4 linked regions of the Homo sapiens genome follow. The protein of the gene in region 4 interacts with the protein of the main gene of each other region in a pairwise test. Each region holds a gene or a part of one and is shown on either strand. Other genes may lie near its edges.

Region 1 (3,500 bases), on a different chromosome or scaffold from region 4:
GAGGGATGGAGCCTCCTGAGTGATACACTGACCTCATTTGGAGAGCTGCAATGAGCCCATTTTCTGAGCAGCAAACCTCTGTGAATGTGTGTCACTGGGAGCAGGGTCTGCCCTGGGAAATAGTCCAGATGGCCAAGGACAACTGGGAAGTGCCTGGCTGGGAGGGGCTTCTCCAAGTGGTGGGGTTTGGTCTCTAAGAGATTTTTAAATGCATCCAAGTAGCGTTATTCAAGCAGGGTGTTTGGAGGTTTGATCTTTGAGGCATGGAATTAATGATGAGTAGACAACTGGGTCAGGCTTGAGCACTGGTACAGGCTGAGAAGAAGGGAGGTCTTGTGGCTGGTGTTTTATCCTTAGGCCTGACCTGGCTGTCTGTGACTCATGATCCTCACTCCTCCTTCACACCCCAGCCAGGAAGCAGAGTGCTGGCATCAGCGGAACCTCCTAATTCTCGATGCCTCACATGCATCCTATGGAATGAGATGGTTTTTAATGAGGATGAAGATGGCGCCAGGGGGGCACTCCTGTTGGACTTGGGCAGACTGGACCAGGAGCTCATTTGCACTCTAGAGCTTGTTCCTCTGCACCCCAGCTAGTTGACTGTCAGGTGAACAGGAGCCAAATGTGTGACCTGTGGTACCCACTCTCCAGGCAGACTCCCCCTCCTTCTCATACTGCAGTTTGAAAATTGGTACCCATGGGTCTCACCACTGATTTTCTTCCTTATGAAATGCTTCTCGGCCCTGTCTTCACTCTGCTGCCAGTGAGCCAGGGGTGGCAATGGGAGAGAGGGGCAGGGTTGAGGAAGGTGAGAAGTGGAGAGAGGCTCAGGTCTCTGGGTCAGTTAAGAACCCCCTGGGAGACACCCAGGGGAAACACAGAAACTGCAGCTTCAGAGAGAGTTGTGCACATATTTTGATATCCTCTGGTAGGATTTCAGAGCATCACGGATCTCTGCTGAAAACCCCACCAGCTTTCTGAAAACTTAGTAGCTGGCCAGTGGCCTGGAGCCTGGCTTAGCTCTTGCCCAAGGGGCCCCAGCCATGGGATTCTTTATTTAGAGGTCTTAAACTAGCAGCTCTAGAAATGAGTCTGGTCCATGGGTGTGCCTTACTTAGTCTGTTGAGTGCTTATACATTTTAAAAATGTATTGGAAATATTCAAAAATCAGAATATTTGATGTTAAAAAGATCTAGATTTCTGGCTTCTTTTGAGACACCAGAAGTGCTGGCAACCTGGGTATACATTCCCACGTGGCAATAGTCATCTGTCTCCTTGAGATGGGGCACCAGTTTTCTAATTAGCCCCAGGCCCCACCTGGCCCACTTATTGCTCAGCCCCTGTAAACATTTGCATTCATAATCCCTGATAAAGCCTCTAGAATGTCAGAGATGAAAGGGGCTTGAGCAATGATGTAGTTCCAGTTTCTTAGTTTCCAGTTGAAGAAATGGAGGTGCAGAGAAGGGAAGACTTTCCCAGGGCCATGTGGCCCAGGGTCAGGTCTCCTGCCCCCAGGTCAGTGGGCCATCTTTCCACTAGGGCTTCCTGGCACTTCACACTCAAGCCACCATGAATGGAGAAAACCAGGAGACCCTGCCTTGCCTTAAATCCGGCTCTTCACCAACTTCAGATGAGTCTGTAATATATGTACTCTATGTAGGTCTGGGAGACTAAGGCTCTGCCATATAAAATGTGTCTGATATCATCCTTTAGCAACTCCTCAGAGTTGCTCCTCCACAAACACTCTCCAGGGAGAGAAGCAGATCTCTGGTCACCCAGAGCCTGGATAGTAGTCTAAGGCTCAGGATATTGTTGGTGCTGAAAAGGGTGTTGACTTATCCTACTCTGGCTACTTGAGAACCTGTGGATCAAAGCCAAGAGGAAATGGGAATTTATTATGTAAGGTAGCACCCCCAAATCTTAATGTATTAATAGCTTAATACAATAGAAGTTTGTATCCTGCTCAGTGAAGTTCCAGGTAAGTGTTCCTGATCAACAGGTATTCCAGGCGGTGATTCAAGGCAGTGATTCAGTGATTCAGGGACCAAGGCTCTTCCCAACTTGTGGTGTCACTATCTTCAACACAGGGCTCCACCAGCCTCCATGAAAGGGGAAAGAGCAGGGAGAAATGGTACATCTTTATGAATCAAGCCTACACATGGCATTCGTCACTTCCTCTCACATTCTACTCAGTCATAGGGACACACCTAACTGCAAGGGAGGCTGGGAATTAATATAGCTGTATGCCTAGGAGGAAGAAGAAATGGCTTGGGTCAGTAGCTAGCCAGTCGCTAGAGACACACGCCTTCAGGACAGCACACAAATATGTGTGTACACATGTGTGCATTCAGGCACAGATTTAACACAATCCCTATCAAATTAGCAACATCGTTTTTCACAGTATTGGAAAAAACAATGCTAAAAAAAGAAAAAACAATGCTAAAGTTCACATGGAACCAAAAGAGAACCTGAATAGCCAAAGCAATCCTATGCAAAGAACAAATCCAGAGGCATCACATTGCCTGACGTCAAATTATACTACAAGGCTATAGTAACCAAAACAGCAGGTTTTGTATGGGTCAGAGGACAGGAAGCTGAGTCCATATCAGAATGGTTTCTTCCCTTTCTTTCCATTCTCACCACTGCTTTTCTCACCACCTCTTTAGTTTTTTCCATGGACTATTAGAAAGAGAATCATCCCTCCAACTGGCCCCTCACCCCAGTCTTGTCCACTTCCCACAAAACTGCTAGAATGAGCCTTCTAGGGGTAGGGGAGTCCATCCTCAAGATTGACTGACTTTCATAAGTTGGTTTTAGAGGGGCAGAGGAAGGCCATAGCCTTGTTCTTTACTCTTGAAAATACAACATTATAAAACCTTAACCAGAGCAGACATGTTAACAATTAACTTATTTATATTACCAAAGCATTCCTTATTTCTCCGAGTTATCATAGGTTCCTAGTAGATATCAAGGGGATTTCCTCAATGAAAACCTTGATTAGAGGAATCAACTCATATAAGCCTACAGGAGGGCTTATACATTATTTAATCCAGTCACAATACTTTGAGATCACATTTCGTACATACAGCAAGGTCCACCTGGATTTAGGAAAGTCACATATAGTGTTTTTGGATTCCCACCTTTTCAGGACCTTGATCTACCAATTATCTGCTCCTTCTACTTTATTGATAACCTTTCCTAGTTATTTATTATTTCCCAAGATTTTTGTTTGTTTTTAAATTTTATTTTATTTTAGATTCAGGGAGTACATGTGCATGTTTGTTACATGGGTATATTGCATATTGGTGGAGATTGGGCTTCTAGTGTACCCATCACCCAAGTAGTGAACATTGTACCCGATGGGTAATTTTTTAACCCTCACCCCCTCCCCTCTTTTGGAATCCCCAGTGTCTATTATTTTCATCTTCATATCCATGTGTACCTCTTGTTTAGCTTAGATTTATAAGTGAGAAAGTGTGTTTTGTGGTATTTGGTTTTCT
Region 2 (3,500 bases), on a different chromosome or scaffold from region 4:
AGAGCTCAGAGTAGGTGTTTGGATCCATTTTCTAAGCCAGATCCCAGATAAAGGTCTTAGATCAGTAACTCAGGTATAATCTCTGGACCCAGTCCCTGAGTCAGTGCCCCAGACTAGAGCCTTGGTCCAGAAACAGATGTACTGAGTTTGTGAGACCTCTGTAAGAGCATTCCCACTGGATCCTAGGAGCCACGCTGGGTCTCTGGCAGGACCACTCAGTGAACTCCTTGGGGGGCTGCAGCCCAGGCAGGGCTGGAGCCTGTGACGTCCCCTCCTCAAAGTTTGCAGACACAGACAACATTCTGACCAACAATCAGACTCTGCGGCTTCTCATGGGGCAGGGGCTTCCAGTGGTGGCCCCAATGCTGGACTCCCAGACCTACTACTCCAACTTCTGGTGTGGGATCACCCCCCAGGTGAGGCCGGGATGGGGGCCTTGGGTGGACTGAGGTCCTGGAAGGAGGGACGTGGAGAGCAGAGAGCCTGAGGCCTTGGGGTCTGTGGGCAGGGGCAGGGGAGCCCTCTCACAGCCCAAAGCATCCCTTTTCCCCAGGGCTACTACCGCCGCACAGCCGAGTACTTCCCCACCAAGAACCGCCAGCGCCGGGGCTGCTTCCGTGTCCCCATGGTCCACTCCACCTTCCTTGCATCCCTGCGGGCTGAAGGGGCAGACCAGCTTGCTTTCTACCCGCCACATCCCAACTACACTTGGCCTTTCGACGACATCATCGTCTTCGCCTATGCCTGCCAGGCTGCTGGTGAGGACCAGCCCTCCTTTAGCATTCCTTGGAGGCCTCTGCACATTTGCACATGCTATTCCAGCTGCTTACCATGCCCTTCCCTACTCTGCATTTCATCCTGTTAACCCATGAGTTACAACTTTGGGTCATGAGTTTTCTTTTCTCTCTCTTTTTTTTTTTTTTTGGTGTGATCTCGGCTCACTGCAAACTCTGCCTCCCGGGTTCAAATGATTTCCTGCCTCAGCTTCCCGAGTAGCTGGGATTACAGGCACCCGCCACCACACCCAGCTAATTTTTGTATTTTTAGTAGAGACGGGGTTTTGCCATGTTGGTCAGGCTGGTCTCAAAACTCCTGAGCTCAGGTGATCCACCCGCCTCGGCCTCCCAAAGTACTGGCATTACAGGTGTGAGCCACCCGCCCAGCCAGTGGTTACTTTTAAGATGAAAGGTTTTTTGTTGTTGTTGTTGTTGTTGTTTTTGGGACAGAGTCTCACTCTGTCGCCCAGGCTGGAGTGCAGTGGCCGATCTTGGCTCACTGCAAGCTCCGCCTCCCGGGTTCAAGCCATTCTCCTGCCTCAGCCTCCCGAGTAGCTGGGACTACAGGCGCCCACCACCACGCCCGGCTAATTTTTGTATTTGTAGTAGAGATGGGGTTTCACCGTGTTAACCAGGATGGTCTCGATCTCCTGACCTCGTGATCTGCCCGCCTCGGCCTCCCAAAGTGCTGGGATTACAGGCGTGAGCCACCGCGCCCAGCCAAGATGAAAGTTACTAGAAAGAGTTTGGGTATGGCCAGGCAAGGTGACTCAGACCCTAATCTCAAAGTCTTGGGAAGCTGAGGCTGGAGGGGAAATCACTTGAGCTCAGGAGTTCGAGACCAGCCTGGACAACATAGCAAGACCTCATCTCTTTTCTGCCCTTTTTTTTTTTTTGAGATGGAGTTTTGCTCTTGTTGCCCAGGCTGGAGTGCAATGGCGTGATCTTGGCTCACTGCAACCTCTGCCTTCCGGGTTCAAGCAGTTCTCCTGCCTCAGCCTCCCGAGTAGCTGGGATTACAGGCATGCACTGCCACGCCTGGGTAATTTTGTGTTTTTAGTAGAGACGGGGTTTCTCCGTGTTGGTCAGCCTCGTCTCGAACTCCTGACCTCAGGTGATCTGCCCGCCTCAGCCTCCCAAAGTGCTGAGATTACAGGCATGGGCCACTGAGCCCAGCCCAGCCTTTTTTTTTTTTTTTTTTTTTTGAGACGGAGTCTTGCTCTGTGGCTCCCAGGCTAGAGTGCAGTGGCACAATCTCAGCTCACTACAGTGTTGACCTCCCCCACCTCAGCCTCCCACGTAGCTGGGACCACAGGTGCACACCACCATGCCCAGCTAATTTTTGTATTTTTTGTAGAGATGGGGTTTTGCCGTGTTGCCCAGGCTGGTCTTGAACTCCTGGGCTCAAGTGATCTGCCCCCGCAGCCTCCCAAAGTGCTACAATTACAGGCGTGAGCCACCGCCCCCGGCTGCGAGATCCCATCTCTACAAAAAAATTTAAAAATTAACTTGGCGTGTTGGCCCACGCCTGTAGTCCCAGCTTCCTGGGAGGCTGAGGCAGGAGGATCGCTTGAGCCCAGGAGGTAGAGACTGCAGTAAACTGTGATCATGCCACTGTACTCCACCTTGGGCAACACAAGATGAGACCCTGTCTGAAAAAAAACAGAGAGTAAGAAAGTGTTTGGGTTTGGATGGAATAAATCCAGTCCTGGCCAGGTGCGGTGGCTCACGCCTGTAATCTAAGCACTTTGGGAGGCCGAGGCAGGTGGATCACGAGGTCAAGAGATTGAGACCATCTTAAGACGGTGAAACCCCGTCTCTACTAAAAATACGAAAAATTAGCCAGGCATGGTGGCGGGTGCCTATAGTCCCAGCTACTCGGGAGGCTGAGGCAGGAGAATGGTGTGAACGCAGGAGGCAGAGCTTGCAGTGAGCCGAGATCGCGCCACTGCACTCCAGCCTGGGCGACAGAGCGAGACTCTGTCTTAAAAAAAAAAAAAAATCCAGTCCTGAGGATGAGAGGGAGGGGTGGAGACACTGATGTTGGAGTGAAGCTCTTGAGAAGGCTGCAGAGAATATGTAATTCCGACCCTGAAGACTATCTGGTGCATGGAGAAGAACTTTGCAGGTGCTCAGGGTAAATTAGAGGTGACGATTTAATCAAGTAATCAGTGGCAGCCGGTAAGGAGGATGTTGTAATTCTTTGTTTTGTGCTGGAGAAGTCTGCAGTGTGCAGACATGCAAGAAGAAATCTTACCAAGTGCAAAAAGTGAGTGAAGGTGAAACAATTGGAGGGGAAAACACAAGAGGAAACAAAAGCATTCTGTTATTTTTAATTTGCTAGCCCTACTTCAAGCGACAGCCGTTGTTAATTGGTCAATGGTTTGAAGGAATTCAGTCTCTAACAGCCAGATACTACATCCCGGCTCTGGGCCAGGCTCTGTGCTCAATGCTGGGAATAGGGTTAGCTTTTATTTGTTTTTTGTTTGTTTTTTTTTAAGACAGAGCTTTGTTCTGTCGCCTAGGCTGGAGTGCAGTGGCGCGATTTTGGCTCACTGCAACCTCTGCCTCCCGGGTTCAAGTGATTCTCCTGCCTCAGCCTCCTAAGTAGATGGGATTACGGGCGGCCACCACCACAGCCGGTTAATTTTTGTATTTTTAGTAGAGATGGGGTTTCACCATGTTGGCCAGGCTGGTCTTGAACTCCTGACCTCAAATGATCTG
Region 3 (2,896 bases), on a different chromosome or scaffold from region 4:
GCTGAAGCACCCCCGGACTGCAGTGTGAACGTGCTGTGCAATAGTGACACGCTGGGCTTCCCCACAAGGCTCCACCCTGAGGTCTTTTAAGCTGTCCTTATGCCAGCCTATTTCTTGTTTTTTGGGCCTTTTTTTTTGGAGATAGGGTCTCACTCTGTCGCCCAGGCTGGAGTGCAATGACGCAATCTTGGCTTATTGCAGTCTCGACCTCCTGGGCTCAAGAGATCCTTCCACCTCAGCCACCTGAGTAGCTTGGACTACAGGTGTGCACCACCTCTCCCAGTTAATTTTTGTATTTTTAGTAGAGACAGAGTTATGCCATGTTACTCAGGCTGGTCTTGAACTCCTGGACTCAAGCGATCAGCCTGCCTTAGCCTCCCAAAGTGCAGGGGTTACAGGCTTGAGCCATTGCGCCTGACCTATTTCTGGTTCTTAGGGCCCTGGATGTTAGGATGGATTTCTGAATTAATAATAATAATAAAACCCTCATCAAGATGTGATTTGCATAGTTGTCACTTTATATAATATTATTTTCCTTCTGTGACCTTTCCAAGTCTGAAACAGTCCCAGGGACTTCTTTTGGTTAGTTATTTGCAATCACCTGCAGGACACACACACAAGAAAATTGTCAGGTTCACGTAACCACAGAGCTGTGCGTGGCAGTTTCCTGTCTCTGTCCTCCTGGGCTAAGCTACTCAAGTGAGTCACAGGCAGCCCACACTACAGTAGCTCCTGCCTGAGGAGTTCAGATGATGTTTCGGAGAAAAAGATGCAATCACAGCTTTTCATTGACCTGTTAGGGTCTTCCTGTAAAGGGGGTCTTAGCCAGGAGTCCTGTGTGGGCTTCAGGTCAGGGGGCCTTCGAACCCCCTAAAAATTATATGCCAAATGTGCGGATGGCATATTTTTAGATTTCATTTGTTTCTCATCAAAACTGCTGTTTGCAAGGCAGTTATGCACTGTGGTTGGGGCTATAACTGTTTCCAGAGGCTGTTGATCAGTATCTGTTAAACTTTTTTTTTTTTTTTTTGAGACAGTCTTGCTCTGTTGCCCAGACGAGTACAGTGGCATATTCTAGGCTCACTGCAACCTCTGCCTCCCAGGTTCAAGCGATTCTCCTGCCTTAGCCTCCCGAGTAGCTGATATTACAGGTGTGCACCACCATGCCTGGCTGATTTTTTTGCATTTTTAGTAGAGACAGGGTTTCACCATGTTGGCCAGGCTGGTCTCGAACTGCTGACCTCAAGTGATCTACCCGTCTCGGCTTCCCAAAGTGCTCGGATTACAGGCGTGAGCCACCGCGCCCAGCCTGTTAAACATTTTGATATGCCAACTTCATGATCCAGTGCTGTAAACGGCAGGATATCCAGCTGCTACAGCACAAATACTCAAGTGTGCAAGAATTATGTCCAAGGATGTTCATTGCACAATGTAAGAGTGAAAAATAGGAAACATGAAAGCTGCATTCATTACACTCAAACTATGGAATACTATTTAGCTGTTCAAAAGAATGACATGTATGTACTGACATGTAAAATGTGATAAGGTGTTAAGTGAAAAATAGCTGCAGAACAGTATGAAGACTCAGATCCTAGTTTTTGCTTAGAAGACAGTGTCTATGTGTGTGTGTGTGTATATAGATAGATAGATAGATAGATAGATAGATAGATAGATATGCACATAAAGTTGAGAAGACCACACACCAAGCTTTTAACAATGATTGGCAGGGCGAAGTGGCTCACGCTTGTAATCCCAGCACATTGGGAGGCTGAGGTGGGCAGATCACCTGAGGTCAGGAGTTTGAGACCAGCCTGGCCAACATGGTGAAACCCCATCTCTACTAAAAATACAAAAATTAGTTGGGCATGGTGGTGCATGCCTGTAATCCCAGCTAGTTAGGAGGCTGAGGCAGGAGAATTGCTTGAACCCGGGAGGCGCAGGTTGCAGTGAGCTGAGATCAAGCCACTGTACTCCAGCCTGTGCAACAGAGCGAGACTCCATTTGAAAAAAAACAAAACAAAAACAATGATTACCTCTGGAGAGTGGAATTGGAGATGTAAAATGAGGGGGGACTTCTACTTTTTTACTTGATACTCTCCTGTATTCTTTTAATATTTTTACAAAGAGTATGTATTACCTTCTGGAAAAAGAATAAAAACTAAGGATTGCTGGAGTTCATGTGTGACTGTCATTCAACTGACATTTGTTGAAAGGATGAATGCCGCAGGCCACTTGTCTCCTCTGCTTCTCTGCTCTTATCTTTTGCTTGTACTTCCTGACCTTGGCTTGTCACCTGTCTGGGTTTATCCAGGCAGGTGCTCTCAGTCACCCCCAGGGCTCTAGTGGTACGTGACTCCAGGCTGCACACACTGTGTCCCTGGGTTGGGGCCACTTCAAGGTTTCACTAGCCCCTCTGCCGCTGCCAGGGGCAGCCCCCACCCAAGGACAGCTGGTTGCTTGGCTCTCCCCCTTCTGAAACCCGTTACCGGGCATCTGTGCCTGTCCCGACTGCTCTCCCATGAACACAGGGCCTCTGCCCAGCTGCCTCGGGAGGCGTGCTGCCCCGTGGATCCCTGCTGCCATCTGGCCATGCTTTGGGATCTGGCCTGTTCTGTTGTGCTTGTGTCTGTGGCTGGGAACAGCTGATGCTGGGAACAGCTGATGCTGGGACAACAGATCGGGACAATTGCCCCTGCCCCTGCTTCAGGTCCCCAGGATGCTGCCAGGACCAGCTGCACGGTGACTCCCACAGCAGCTGGGGCTGGAAAACGGTCTTAGGATTTGGCTGGGAAAGGCCCCTAAGCAGCCTTTCGTCCAGTCAGTCTCAGGCCAGGCTCCTTTGACGTGCGTGGTGCCTCCAAAGGTGGACTCAGATGGGTTTTTCCCAATTTAGATA
Region 4 (2,556 bases):
AGAAAACCTATTCCTATCTTAGCATTTTGGTCTCATTGGTTTATAGACTCTGATAATATCCCTATCCATGGATCATTTGAGTATTGACTAATGTACATAGGTACCCAACTGGTTGATTATTAATCAAGAATACAGAACTTTATTTAATAATTAGCACACCCTGATCTGGCTTCTTTGCTTGCTTTTCTTTGGATCCCTGTCCAATAACCTCTGTGGAATCTCATTCCCTAATTGTTGATACTCATTTTCTCCGTTTGCAAAATGAAGATACTCATTGTTAGGATCCTACTGCTGAAGGGTGCTATGTCACTTTCTAGTGCTCTTATATGTCTTTAATTATAGGACTGGAATGAAAAGCTTAACCATACAGTATTTCTAAGCAAAATAATGTACTCCATTCTTTTGTCCATGCTCTCATTGCTGATTTGTTCTTGCAGGACTTAGAGCACTTTGTTAATGTTCTTCCATTCACTCCAACAGCGTCCTCAGAAAGAGACAGAATAAAAAAATTGTTCCCCATGGTACAGCTGGAAAAATTAAGGGGAAAAGAGATTAAGTGGTCCCCAATGGAACACAGCTGTCTTATGCAGGGCTCACAGTTACCATGTTCAGTACATTGTTAAAGTAACTTGGCTTCCCAGGACTGGAATTATCATGGAGCAGTTAGAATTTTGAGAGTAATTACAACAGGATCACATTCTGAAAGAGTCACATTTTGTCAAAAATCTGAAAAGTATGCAATTTGTACAACTCTTACTTTCTATGTGATAAGAATGCAATATGTGCCTCTTTCCCCTACTAGCCCCATGTGACACATATTTTTCACACTATGTGGCATCAACCAGTGCCATTACCTCCTGTGGCACCATAGAGCCCAATCTCAGGGCAGACATTGCCAAGGTAAAGAATGCACTCCATGTTTATACCAAATTGCACAAAGTATAGACATTGAGGTTAATGGAGATTTAAGCACAATCCTAGCAAGTAAGTTTTAAGAATACTGAATATTATACATTATTGTAACATGAACCTAAAATTAATTTAACAGGGCCCAAATTCATAGGAATGTAACAGTCATTGAAAGCCTATTCTTTTCACCTCTCATCACACATATCTACATACATGTATGCACATGTACACACACACACACACACACACACACACACATACACATTTTCTCCAAAGCAGGCTGCCTCTTCAGCAGGAGCAAATACTTTAATTTAAAAGAATGATTATCTGTTTTCTCCTTTTAGAAAAAGAGTCTAAGAAACACAGCATGTGAAGAACATTAGATTTATACATTCCAGAATCTCTGCTCTCAGAGTAGCTAAGAGATTCGGTACAGAAGACGTTCTATGGAGAAGCACAGGGGGCATCTAATGAGATTGTCAGGCCCTTGGACAAGATCCATATTCTTAGAAAATTAATGAGTTCCATCTCGTTAGGAATTGGTTGATGAGGTATGGTACATCTGCATTTCTTTAACCATAGCTGTAATGTACCATATTAAATTGTAGCCTTTTGCATGCGGGTATTATATAATAATGAATGGGTGGCTCCTAGTAGCATGCAACCCATGACTGTTTACTTCCCTAAAAGGGTTAGGTCTGTGTCCTGCACAGTGTTCAAAACCATTAAATGTGTTCTTTGTAGCAGGATGGTACACAGCCATCAGCAGAATGAGTTAAAACCAACAATGAATTCAATATACCAGGAAATAGATTGTTAGTAGGGAATGGCATTAAAGGAAAAAAAAATTAGATAAGATGCATTCAAGGAATAATTACTTTCACTCTGCTGGCTTAATCAGTGAAGGAACATAAAAGGAAAGCTGGCAGTGGGTCTTGGTAATATATGAACTATATTAGAGTGCCAGAAAAGGAGACCTCAGAAGTTAAGCATAGGTTGCCAATCTGCTACAATTATTTTTCCCACCAATCTGCTCAAAATGATTGTATATAGTATTCTTAAAACCATGTGTCTTGGTGCAGAAATATTGACAAATGCTGGCCAGCTTTATCTTCCTATATCCTTCATTAAAAGTATATGCATATAATTGTTGGTTTTTTTTCCTAAATTGTGGCTTTGTTAAACAATGTTGACAAACCCTAAAGTTTCAGACTACTCTAAGGAAGTTTCTATACATCTAATTTCATAGGGGTATAGTGATGTTTGTTCACTCAGGTTGATTGGTATGCGTGGTATGTAGACTTCTCTGTAACATCTCACCTTCTGAACAGCCCCTTCCATGTGTTCGGTATTTCTGTCTTATGTTCCTACATGAATATGAATTGGGAAATTAGCTGCAATGGCTTTTAGATAGAAAGCTGACCAGTCTAGTGACACTTAATCACATTCAGTCTCTACTCAGCCTCACACATCTTTTGCCTTTCACTCTGCCATTGTGATGAAAGGAAAAAGAAAGAACTTTTCTTATGTGCCTAAGGGTGAAGTGAACTCTGGTTTGCTTTTTCTTACACTGAAGGCTATGTGTACTATTCTCCAGATGCATGTCACCTGAAAAAAGATACATAGAGGGGAACAACAGACACTGGG

The links. Proteins that work in one complex are often made in the same cells at the same time.
Region 1: the proteins of ZDHHC15 (region 4) and GOLGA7B interact in binary tests that used the Homo sapiens proteins (3 or more experiments, as listed by UniProt).
Region 2: the proteins of ZDHHC15 (region 4) and CERCAM interact in binary tests that used the Homo sapiens proteins (3 or more experiments, as listed by UniProt).
Region 3: the proteins of ZDHHC15 (region 4) and CELA2B interact in binary tests that used the Homo sapiens proteins (3 or more experiments, as listed by UniProt).

What each region holds. Positions count from the first base shown.
Region 1 is NC_000010.11:97,852,843-97,856,342, forward strand, and holds part of GOLGA7B (golgin subfamily A member 7B), read left to right. Parts: intron 1-3,500.
Region 2 is NC_000009.12:128,423,857-128,427,356, forward strand, and holds part of CERCAM (inactive glycosyltransferase 25 family member 3 isoform a precursor), read left to right. Parts: intron 1-281; coding exon 282-416; intron 417-553; coding exon 554-758; intron 759-3,500. UniProt on the Homo sapiens protein: Probable cell adhesion protein involved in leukocyte transmigration across the blood-brain barrier. Does not express any beta-galactosyltransferase activity in vitro.
Region 3 is NC_000001.11:15,489,000-15,491,895, reverse strand, and holds the end of CELA2B (chymotrypsin-like elastase family member 2B preproprotein), read right to left. Parts: intron 602-2,896; coding exon 584-601; 3' UTR 501-583; downstream 1-500. UniProt on the Homo sapiens protein: Acts upon elastin.
Region 4 is NC_000023.11:75,367,927-75,370,482, reverse strand, and holds the end of ZDHHC15 (palmitoyltransferase ZDHHC15), read left to right. Parts: 3' UTR 1-2,056; downstream 2,057-2,556. UniProt on the Homo sapiens protein: Palmitoyltransferase that catalyzes the addition of palmitate onto various protein substrates.